Linked DNA regions of Homo sapiens: region 2 is linked to region 1. The links come from fine-mapping of genetic effects on gene expression. Tissue or cell type: CD4 T cells. Region 1 holds a variant in brackets; the other region holds the start of a gene. All regions are shown on one strand. Distances are from middle to middle.

Region 1 (5,148 bases):
CCCCCAGCAAGGTCAGAGTTCTCAGCACCATCCAAGCCTTCAGTCTCCCACTGAGTGTGACTTGGGCCTCAGTTTCTCCCTCAGACACTGATGTGCTGATTAGTTTCACCAGGCAGTCACGAGGCCACAGTGTGGTGCTGAGTGTCAGCTGCATGAGGGTGACATGCACACGGCCCCACGCGTAGATCAGACAGGAATGCTGTAGTCCTGCCTCTGTGAACCCCGTCACACATGTGACACTCCCTGGACCACACAGCTGGGACATGCTCTTTGAAGAGTGCTGGAGGAAAATCTGCGCTTGGAATAAAACAAAGAAGCACAGCATTTAATAAATGAGCATTTACTATGTAGAAGGAGTGGTCTGTTTCGGCTGGGGATGGAGCATTGAGATTGCGGTGCTTTTTAACTCTGGCAATGTCAGGATTTAAAGCGGAGTTTTCAAATTCAGCAAATGTTGGTAATCCAAAGCTGCCAAGTGTGAGAGCACACGTGTTTATGGACATGGCTTCGGGACCCCTCCGCCCTGGGAATTTCCCCTTTGTTTCTCTGATGCCTTTTCTTCAGCGGGGCTGCCACTCAGAGGCTCAACATCTTCCCTGCTTTTCTGTACCAGGTCGGTGTGTTTTAAACTGTGAGAATGAGTAGCCATGACATTTTATTTCTAGCTGTTTGTGAAAAGACCCAGCCAAATGCAGGTGCTGTTATTGGCACCCTCTTTCTCCCTCCCCAGCCAGATGAAAAGAGCTTTTTCTACCAGAAGACAGATGCCCCTTATTTGGTGTGCACACAATGGAACCTTCATCACAAGTCACCAGTGATGTTCAGGGTCAGGGAGAAACTACCTGGTACCCAGAGCTCTTTCCAGGCACCCAGCTATGCACAAAGAGAGGACCAATCAAATGTTGGGTCAATGTGAATGCCTTTCTTTTTTTTTTTTTTTTTTTTTTTGAGACAGAGTCTCGCTCTGTCTCCCAGGCTGGAGTGCAGTGGTACGATCGCAGCTCACTGCAACCTCCACCTCCCAGGTTCAAGTGATTCTCACACCTCAGCCTCCCAAGTAGCTGAGATTATAGGCATGTACCACCATGGCTGGCTAATTTTTGTAGTTTTAGTAGATATGGGGTTTCACTCTGTTGGCCAGACTGGTCTCAAACTCCTGACCTCAAGTGATCCACCCACCTCAGCCTCCCAAAGTGCTGGGATTACAGGCGTGAGCCACCAGACCCACAAGTGAATGCCTACTTACAAGTAAAGATAATTTAGAAAGAAAATTATAAACTATTTGCTTTTATATAGTTTGAAATAGTTTATAATCAATAAAGGAACTTAAAATCCTGGTTCCTAACATTCATCATAGAGTTAGTAAATGTAAAATTTTGTTAGTGTCAAGACAAAACTGGATTTAATCGCAAAGGAGAAATTCTCAGCGCCTTTCTTACAGATTTCTGGAGAAGGAGAGAAGGAGTCACAAAAACATCTTAGTAACATTATTTCCATTTCTCTCAACCCTTAGAAGCAATAAAAAGTCTCATTTTCTGTCCGTTTTTAACTCTGCAGTTAAAAATGTATTTCTTTTACCTTGGGGAAATGGCACAAAACTAGAGCACACTCAAACTTTTCTATGATACATTCTTAAAATGGGGAGGAAGTGAGCCTAAAACCCACGGGGAAGGGCCACTCAGACAGAGAAACCTCTGCCTTATTCCAGTGAAACTGGAGTTAGCGAGTTAGCACGGGACAGAGACTCCTCAGTTCACCTGAGTTCCTCTCCTCGGGCCTTTTCTCCCCTCAGGGCACCACACAGGCTTTGAGAATGCTCAGTTCCCGCCTTAAAATTCTGACCAAATCTTCAAAAATCCAACCCTGTGGGCTTTCTCCCAACCCACATGTGACAGCCCGGGCACAAGAGTGGAGATAGCATTTGACTGCCACCTCCACGAAGTGACCCCAAGGTGCCCAGCAGGTGTTCTCAGCAGACACGGCACATGTTCCTGGCCCAAACCGAGAGAAGCGGTTTCCCCCCAGGTCACCACGCAGGCCCCCAATGGGAGACGAGGACAGTCTTTTCTCAGGTGGCTGACCTGTCCCCCTCACATCAGGCCAGCAAAGGCATTCCCGGGGTCCCTGGCTGGCGAATTGGAGCACAGGCTGATTGCTTGACAGAAATGATTGGACTTCCAAGCCAGAGGAGCTAAAACTGTGAGTGGATACATAGACAATGATGATGGCGTGAATACCTGCGTGCACACACCACTCCTCAGAAGCATCTGAACAACTTAGAGAAGAAAGCTCCTTTGTCATCCATTCTTTTCTCCTCATTTCTCATCTATACCAGTTTCCTAAACATTGGAACTAAACATGAAACTAAGAGAACTGATTTTTAAGCCACTGCTAGATACTTAAAACCAGAGGAATGCGTCTCATTATCCCCAGACACTTCATGCCTGATGAGCTAATAATGTTACTTGCGTGTGAAATCTCTGGCCCCCGTCCGTACACCTGCTTCCCTCGTGTTCCCGATCCAGACCCTGCAGGCCTCACTGGCACAATCCAGACCCACGATTGTGCCAGTGTGTGGCTGCTGTTATCCAGTGGTCTCTTCTCTTGATCGGTGAGTGAGGAAACCACTCAGCTCCACTTTCTCCTGTGTTTGAGTTCCTTCAGGGGCAGTACTGGGTGTTCCAGGTTACGGGAAGGAAGCGAAAGTTAATT[C/T]GTGTCCAGACAGGAGGCGACTGAGGGAGCAGCTGGGAACTTGTATCCATTTGTATTTAAAAGACAAAGAGAAAAGAAGAAACTACATAAACTTACTGAAACAGGAATTTTTATACAAAAATGGTTTTTGTTTCTTAAAATAAGGACGTTTCATAGAAAGCACAGAACACATTCATTTTAAACGAGTGAAAGTCAAAAATGCTTTTAAAGCATCAGAATATTAACCCAGTTTCTGAAAAGTCCCTGGTCCATAGGCTGGGGTCTCAGGGACCCGCCAGTTCAGCCACTTTGTTGACTGGATGAGCTCTGGGGTTGAGAAGGGCTCAGGGCTTTGTAAGGTGCAGCACCTTTACTGTGGGGCAAAACCAGGATAGAACCCGGTGTTTCCACAGAAACCTCACAGATGTCAAGGACTTGGATTCTGCAGATCAGCTGGAGCACCTGAGGATACTTGGGCTAAGCTACTCCCTTCATTGTTTTGCCACAGATTGGATATAAATTGGTGAACTTATTCTGTTTCTAGCTTTGAAAAGAACAGTCTGGTTTTCTTTCTTGAATTGGCTTATTATTCCCCCCAGGAGCCTGGGCATAGGACACTGCCACATGGTGTGGACTTTGAGAGGGCCTGGCACGTCTAACCCAGGTGGGAGTGTGTATGGGGTAGCACCTTCGTGCTATGCCTCTGTTGACCTGAGACTTCTGAACTCAGTTCAATGGGTGGTTGGAGAACTTACTGTGAGTGGAACTGTCCCAAAATAAAGGGTGACTGGGTACATCGCTGAGCCTGCATGCGGCAGTTTTGACGCCAACCCTTCCATGACGCAGTATTTACAGGGGCCGTTAGACCCCACCGTGCAGGCGGCTAAGTGAGAAGAAGGCCGGGGGCGGAGTGTGCTAGAAAGGACCCACCAGAGCACCAGGCTCCTCATACAGGTTCTCAGCGGGCAGCTTCCCCAGCCTGAATCACACACCACAAAATGCCAGAGCAAAGGGTGGCTTTGCTATCAAGATGGGCCAGAGGAGTTACAGCAAGGGTTGGCAGGGGGCCAGCGCCCCTGCGAGGGACGAGGGTCTCTGCAGCCATCACCGTGCCGGACACAGCTGTCATGGGAGAAGCGGAATAGCTCCCTGTGGGCAACAGTGGGGAAATCCCAGCTGTTCTGGGGTCGTTTCTCTTTTACCTCAAGCCTCGTTGCTCCTCTCATGCGTTTGCTAGATCTGGGACATCTCAGGGTGATGAAATTTTCACTTCATGGTACTTCTGTGATTTCTCATGCAGTGAACATTCACTTTAACATAATGAAAGTTAGTTTTTTTCTTCTGATTGCTTGTAATCTTTCATTTTTGTTCGCCTTTTTTCTTCAGAAGTAGTTTTGAAGTACAGTCGTCCGTCATCAGTAACAAGCATTATTCCAGGTCCTGGGGTGACTGTGACATGGGACTGAGCAGGATTGATTTGCTGCTTCTTGTTTTAGAAGTACATAATGCTTTTTATGTTCAGTTTTTCTTTTTGCACTAAAGACTCCTGCAGCTTTTATATTATGTTAGTCATGTTTCGTGATGAACATCTATTATTTTCTCATTTGAAATATTGTGTTGCTTTATCTCATTTGGGGGAATATGATTAAATTAACAGCCAAAAAAAATCCCCCTGGGTGTGTCCCTATTACCACACCAAATATCCACATAATTCTTTCTTAAAGCTGTTCAGTACTGAGGATTATCTAAAACGCCTTTTCTCCCAGATAATAATATTCTTCTCCATCAAATCCATATTCCTCTCAGAATCTCTGGAGGCCAGTGGAGGACTGGAAATTCATAGAGAGCAGCCCTGGCAGGCAGGTGCCCGAGGTCCTGTGGGTCCCAGCCTCACCTGCCCCGGCGCCTGTCTCGTCGCCCTGGACAAGTTCTCCTGGACGGCTGGCCTGGCAGGGCTTCTGCCCACGTGTTCCCGAGCCTGTGCCCTGGAGGCATTTTCAGCCCTCCAAGTTGTTTTTCTCATTTCCCTTCCTGGTTAGTCCTGCAGCTGGGGAGCTCAGCCTTCTGTAGACCGGGAGGCCCCTCCCAGGGAGCCGAGGCCGGGTGGGCTGGGCAGCTTTGGAAGCACCGCGGCCAGCAGCCTCTGCAGCCTCAGGTCCTCTGCCTTTCTGAGGGGATGTTCGATGAGACTGTTACTTCTTTCTTGGAAAGTAGCATTTGCCCCGTGGCCGTGATGCTTTTTGCTATAGATTTTGATCTCCTTTTTCAGTTGTGTGCAAAGAGACTAACACAGACCTTTTTGCACTCTCAGAACCCCCCTGGTGAAGGCTGCACATCTGTTTTCTGACATGTGTGTTTAATGAAGTGGAAGCCAGCATGACTGTGGAGTCTTGCTATCGGCAGCTCACGTGTGCTTCAAGAGCAATCACACAAAACTCCAGTGTCAAAAAGAAACCT
Region 2 (5,148 bases), 970 kb before region 1:
GTGTCTAAAAAAATTTTAAATAAAAAGTTAAACCAGGAGTATAGGTAACATGATCTTAGACAAAGGCCACTACCTCATCTCCAAAAGCCAGGCAGTGGCCCCAGGAAAGTGCCCTGGTCAAGTCCTCCCCTTCACAGGCAAGCCAGGCTGGTTTGGAACAAAAGGCAGAAGCTTTTCCTCCTATTTCTATTTTCCTATTTCTCCTGATCTTGACCCTGCCCAGGAATCCGAACTGCCAAGTAGACGCCCTCCATCCCTCCCATTTATTCTGTCATCCACCCACACCCTGGCTTTCTTGCAGCCAGAGAGCTTCTTCCTGCAAGCACCAGCTGTTGAGCAGGACTGTGACAAAGAGCAACAAAGAGCCACAAAGAGCAGGCTGCGGGCGGGACCATCGGGACCATCACAGAGGCATCAGCCCTGCCCCGGAGTGGCTGCAGATGCATCCCTGAGGGAGGGGGCTGGGGTGCAGGTGCTCCCTCCCGAACAGGGGGTTTGTTAGCTTCATCTGCAAGGCCCTGAAGCCAGGCTCTTTTCAAATCGTCATCATGTGTGCACCGTACACTCCCTTCTGACTCTGGGGGCCTGGGCGCCTGCTTAGTGCAGCCTTAAATTTTTTACGTACCAGTAAAAATACTGCATGTAAGATTCTGTTCCTAGGAGGATAAAGGGATGGCCAGAGCTGGCTAAGCGGAGTCTCGACGGACTAAAGGTATGGGAAAATGAAGACGTGGACCTACCACGTTCTCTTCTACCTGGAACTTAGGATTTGTAAATTGCATTTAGATGTCATTTGTCACATTGGTAGGCTGTGACTTAATACACTCACAAAGAGGATTTTTCCAAGTATTTAAACTGTGTAGATGCTGCAAAAAATCAGACTGAGGCAAAGCCCTGCAGCCAACCCCAGCAGCAAGAGGTGAGGACCCCCTGTCTGTCCTGGGCCCCACTCAGGCACTATCCTCATCTCTTAGAATAGTTTGTTACCTTTTCTTTCCTGAAGCCTCATCAAATGCAACTTTTTCTATGGCATTCAACGGACTTTAAAGCAAAGATTACAGAGAAATTCTTATGCAAGTCAGAAAATCTGCTTATTATGGGTTTGATAAACCAAATTGTGTTACCTGTTTATAGACATAGATTTCTATCAGCCAGACGTGTGCACAGCACAGCACAAACCATAGCCACCCCCGTCGAAGTCTCTTTCTGTGCATTTCCCAGCCACGCCCCCAGCTTGGGCCCCTGGGGTCACCTCCCACTCCGGCTAGAAAGAGAGAAGGAGACAGTGAATTCCTCGGAAGCCGCTCGCCCTGCACCCAAGCGGGACTTGCACCACAAGCAGCCCCAGGAAAAAACTCTCCATTTCTTTCTCGTGGAGGCTCCAGAAGAAAAGCTGCGCATTTACCCGGCGCATTCTAACCGCCTTTGAGGTTCCCTCCGGCAGCCATGGGAGCCGTGGTGGGGCAAAGCCTGGGCTGGGAGACGCTGCAAGGCTCTGGGGAGCAGTGAGGCGCCGCGCCAGCTCCTCCGTTCCCGTCATAGCCTCACACGGGCTTCGCTGGACACGTCCAGGACGCAGCGCCGGTGGGCACCAGGCGTTGAGCGCCTGCCCCGCGTCTGTGCTAAGACCTCCCTTTGCATTATTGCATTTATTCCAACGATGGGGTGAGGTAGGTATTCTTATTTCCATTGCCAGAGTGAAACACTGAGGCTCATCCAGGGGCCGGTGTGGAAATCAGGGCTCAGCCCTGGGCCCCTGCTGCTTGGAGCCGGTGCGGTGGCCACCGTGACCTCACGCTTTCCCTGCCAGTCGCTCTCCGCCGCATCCCGGCCTCCCGCCCCGCCCCCGGCCGCTTTCCAGGGACTGAAGCCCGAGTTGGTGCTGCGTGTCCCCGCGGGGATTATTTTCAAACAGCTCCTCCTGCCCTGGCTCCCACAGCGCGGCCCCAGGCAGCTGCACCACTTTCTCCTCTCACCAATTAAAGCCGAATCCAGGGCTCCTTAGCATATGAATTGAGGCGCATCGGAGCCCTCACTGCTGGGCCAGCCCCTCCCGGGCTCCTCCGGTTCCGGGAGGTCCACAGCCCAGCAGCAGCTGCCCCTGCACGTTGTCCCCTCCGTCCAGCATCCCGGGGCCGAGGAGACAGTGCCCCTGGCCGGGGGCTGCGCTGGCTTCAACTTCCCATGGGCAAAACGGGGTCCCGGGTCAGTGTTCACAGAGGGTCTCAAACCCTGCAGGACCCTGAAATTGTCTGGGATCCACACCAGTCGGAAGAAAAAAAGAATAGAAAACGCAGGGATTCACCTCCTCTGCAGGCACCCTCATGCCGAACACTAAACAGGATGATGTTGAAAAGGATTTGGAGATTTATGCAGGTCACGAGCTTGAGGAATTTTTCCATTGAATGCACCATGCCTTGGGTTTCCCGTTTCCCACTGAAAATCCCATGGCTGACACTTTTTTTATATCATTACCTTGGGAGATGAAGAAAAACTCATCTGTTAGGGCAGCTCTGTGAATGCAGATGCTTTGGGTTGTTTTGAATGAATGACTGAATGTTCTGAAATAAAGCAGGAAGGTGCCTGCGGGATAATGACTGGTTTCGCAACTCTTGGCCGGGAGTCTAGACCCCTCTGATAATCAATAGAAATGGATGTATATTAAATTTAGCAATAGAAAAAGTATAGATAGTTGAGTATGCTACATTATTTTCCTATAAATTAACCCGTTACCACAGTCTTTAATTATCTTCCCCTTGCGAGGCATAAAGAAGAGACTGCTTGAGGATGGAGGGTTTTTTGTGGTCTGAGGTCTGCAGACTGGCCAAGTATTCCAATATTAATTACCACCCATCCTGGCCGTAGGCTCACCCCGCTGACCTGAGCAGACCTGGTGAAGCAAGCCACAACTTCTGCTGGAAATTGCTCCACTCTTCCATTAAGTGAGGATTAGAAAGCCCTTTGTGAGAATTTTGCCCAGAGTCTAAGTTGAGCACTTTGTCACTTGCACGCTTCATTTTCCAGCATACCGTTCGCTCAGCTCAGTGTCTATCCAGGCACTGAAGGTTCGGATGCAAGCACTCTCCAGCGTAGGGGCTGACCAAGTGAAATGCACACTGAGCAACCGTGCAGCTCCAGGTCCTGGCGGCTCTTCACAACCAGACATTCTCCCTGGAGACCCTAAGCTCCTCTTCCTCTGTTGGGGGAGCACAAAATACCCTATAAGGGCTGCTTTGCTGCCTCTGGCACTTTCTTCATCAGGGGAGTTACATCCAGATGTAGCTGACAGGTCAGGGCCCCTTCTCCTCCACCATGTCTCAGGGTTATCTTTTCCAAATGGAGGAAGTCAAGGGTATGCAGGCGCTCCAGTTTCCCTGCCTTACCCTACATATCCATAACAGACTTCAACACGAGAACCAGCGTTTCGGATGTGTCTAGCAGAGTGCCAAAGTCAGGCTGGAGTGTGCCCTGAAAGTCAGGGCCTTCTGAGGGACACAGACACGGTTTGTCTCCAAGGGGGCTGTGTGTAAGGCAAATGCTGAGGCCTACAACCATGTGTTCTGAGACGGTGGCCATTACAGAAACAGGCAGTCCCCAGACAGAAGCACAAAGGGCAATCTCAAGGAATCAAGATCTGTAGGCAGGGACCCACACTGAACAATCTGGACAAAGCTAATGCAGAATGAACAGTACCGCCGCTACCCAGCGACAGTCGGGCTGATGTTCTAGGAGAACCACACGCTTCACACAGCAAGGGAGAAATTAGGCCGTATTTTAATCCCTTCCAGCTTCGTCCAGGAGGTGTTGTGATTTGAGTCACTCTCTTCCTCTAACTCCTAGCCCATCCGCAGTAATAAATAACTTTGCAGTGAATGGATGGTTTTCTTAGACCTGGGGGAACAATCCTAGTTTGATAAAGCAGCTCAGGAGCGTGAATGCTGAGGGGCCCGCCTATTAGCTGCCAAGCTCGGTAGCCAGGTCAGGCCCCACTGGAAGGGAAGGGGCAGTTGCCCAGGGTGCCTGAGGAGCAACCTGGCCCCTGTTCTCGGGTGGGAGAAGGAGCACCTGGCACTGACCAGCCCTGGAACTCCGCCTGCTCACTGGACATCACAGCACATGAGCGGGTGCTATGGATGGAATGTTTGAGTCCCCCAAAATTTGTATCTTGAAGCCCTATTTTCCAAGGTGCTGGTATTAGGAAGCGGGGCATTTAGGAGGTGATTAGGTCATGGGGGGCCTTGTGAATGGGATTAGTGCCCTGATAAGAACAGAGATGACCCATCTCTCAGCCATGTGAGGACACAGCAGAAGGTGCCATCCACACACCAGTCTGGAGCCCTCCCAGCCACGGAACTGCCTGGCACTTGGATGTGGGGGTTCCTGCGTCCCAGCCTCACAAGAACTGTGAGAAATCCATTTCTGTTGTTAAAACCACCCAGGCCATTGCATTTTTGTTACAGCAGCCTGAACTGACTAAAACAGCTTGAATAACAGAAATGGCAGGTTAAAAAAAAAAAATCACTGTTCCTGGGCTTGCTCTAGACTAAATAGTTGGGGGAACCTAGGGATTAGGGAAGAGTCTAGAGAAAAGCCGCAGTTCAACGCCTGCCCATCTCCTTGCTTCTAGTGAAGGGGCTCAAGGAATATGACGCTCTTATTTGGGAAGGAATTCTGGGTCATAGAAAAAAATGGGCGGGCCAGTCCAGGAAGCGTGGAGAGAAGACAGTGAAACTGCTCTGTCGAGAACTCAGGAAGTCCCCCAAGAGAGGACGGGGGAGGTGGGAGGTGTGGGGTAGGTGGAGTGAGCCCCAGGGAGGAAGACCACAGTGATCCTTGTGGCAGAAATCCAAACTGTGGGGGTAAAGGAACATGAAAGCAACAATTTCCCCTTATGTCCTGCCCGATGCTATATAGTTGCTTCACAGCAGCCTCTTCACACCAGCCTCTCATCTTCATACCTTCTCTGAGGGTCTTGCTCATGGTGGCTTTGTCAGGAGATGCTCTGGGGGAGGAGGAAGCAGAGCAAAGCCCACCAGTGACACAGAGTGAACCATAAAGGTGAAGACAGTCATGCCCAGAGAACCAGGGATGCAGAAGTTCATGGAAGCTGGAGTTTGGGGCAGGAAGCATCTGGAAAAACATGAGTCT

Which allele goes with the higher level. Positions count from the first base shown, and alleles are read on the strand shown. Sizes are in standard deviations (SD) of each study's normalised expression.
With allele C in place of T in region 1, the expression in CD4 T cells of the gene that starts at base 2,288 in region 2 is lower (moderate effect, 0.47 SD a copy in Kasela 2017).

Evidence for each region. PIP is the estimated chance that this variant, and not a neighbour inherited with it, causes the effect.
Region 2: LINC02538 starts here. The variant in region 1 is fine-mapped to the expression of LINC02538 in CD4 T cells (Kasela 2017, PIP 0.95).

Annotation. Positions count from the first base shown.
Region 1 is chr6:168,643,720-168,648,867 of GRCh38, forward strand. The region is part of intron 9 of SMOC2 (SPARC related modular calcium binding 2); the gene reads left to right. Among named protein-coding and RNA genes, the nearest start is that of SMOC2, 210 kb to the left of the region's middle. The variant C/T (reference allele first, on the strand shown) is at 2,713.
Region 2 is chr6:167,676,936-167,682,083 of GRCh38, forward strand. LINC02538 (long intergenic non-protein coding RNA 2538) reads right to left here and starts at 2,288. Exons shown (of 3, transcript NR_117091.1): 1 at 1,977-2,288; 2 at 1,125-1,264. LINC02487 (long intergenic non-protein coding RNA 2487) reads right to left here. Exons shown (of 7, transcript NR_117092.2): 7 at 3,756-5,002. LOC124901465 (a long non-coding RNA gene) reads left to right here and starts at 1,297. Exons shown (of 2, transcript XR_007059883.1): 1 at 1,297-1,670.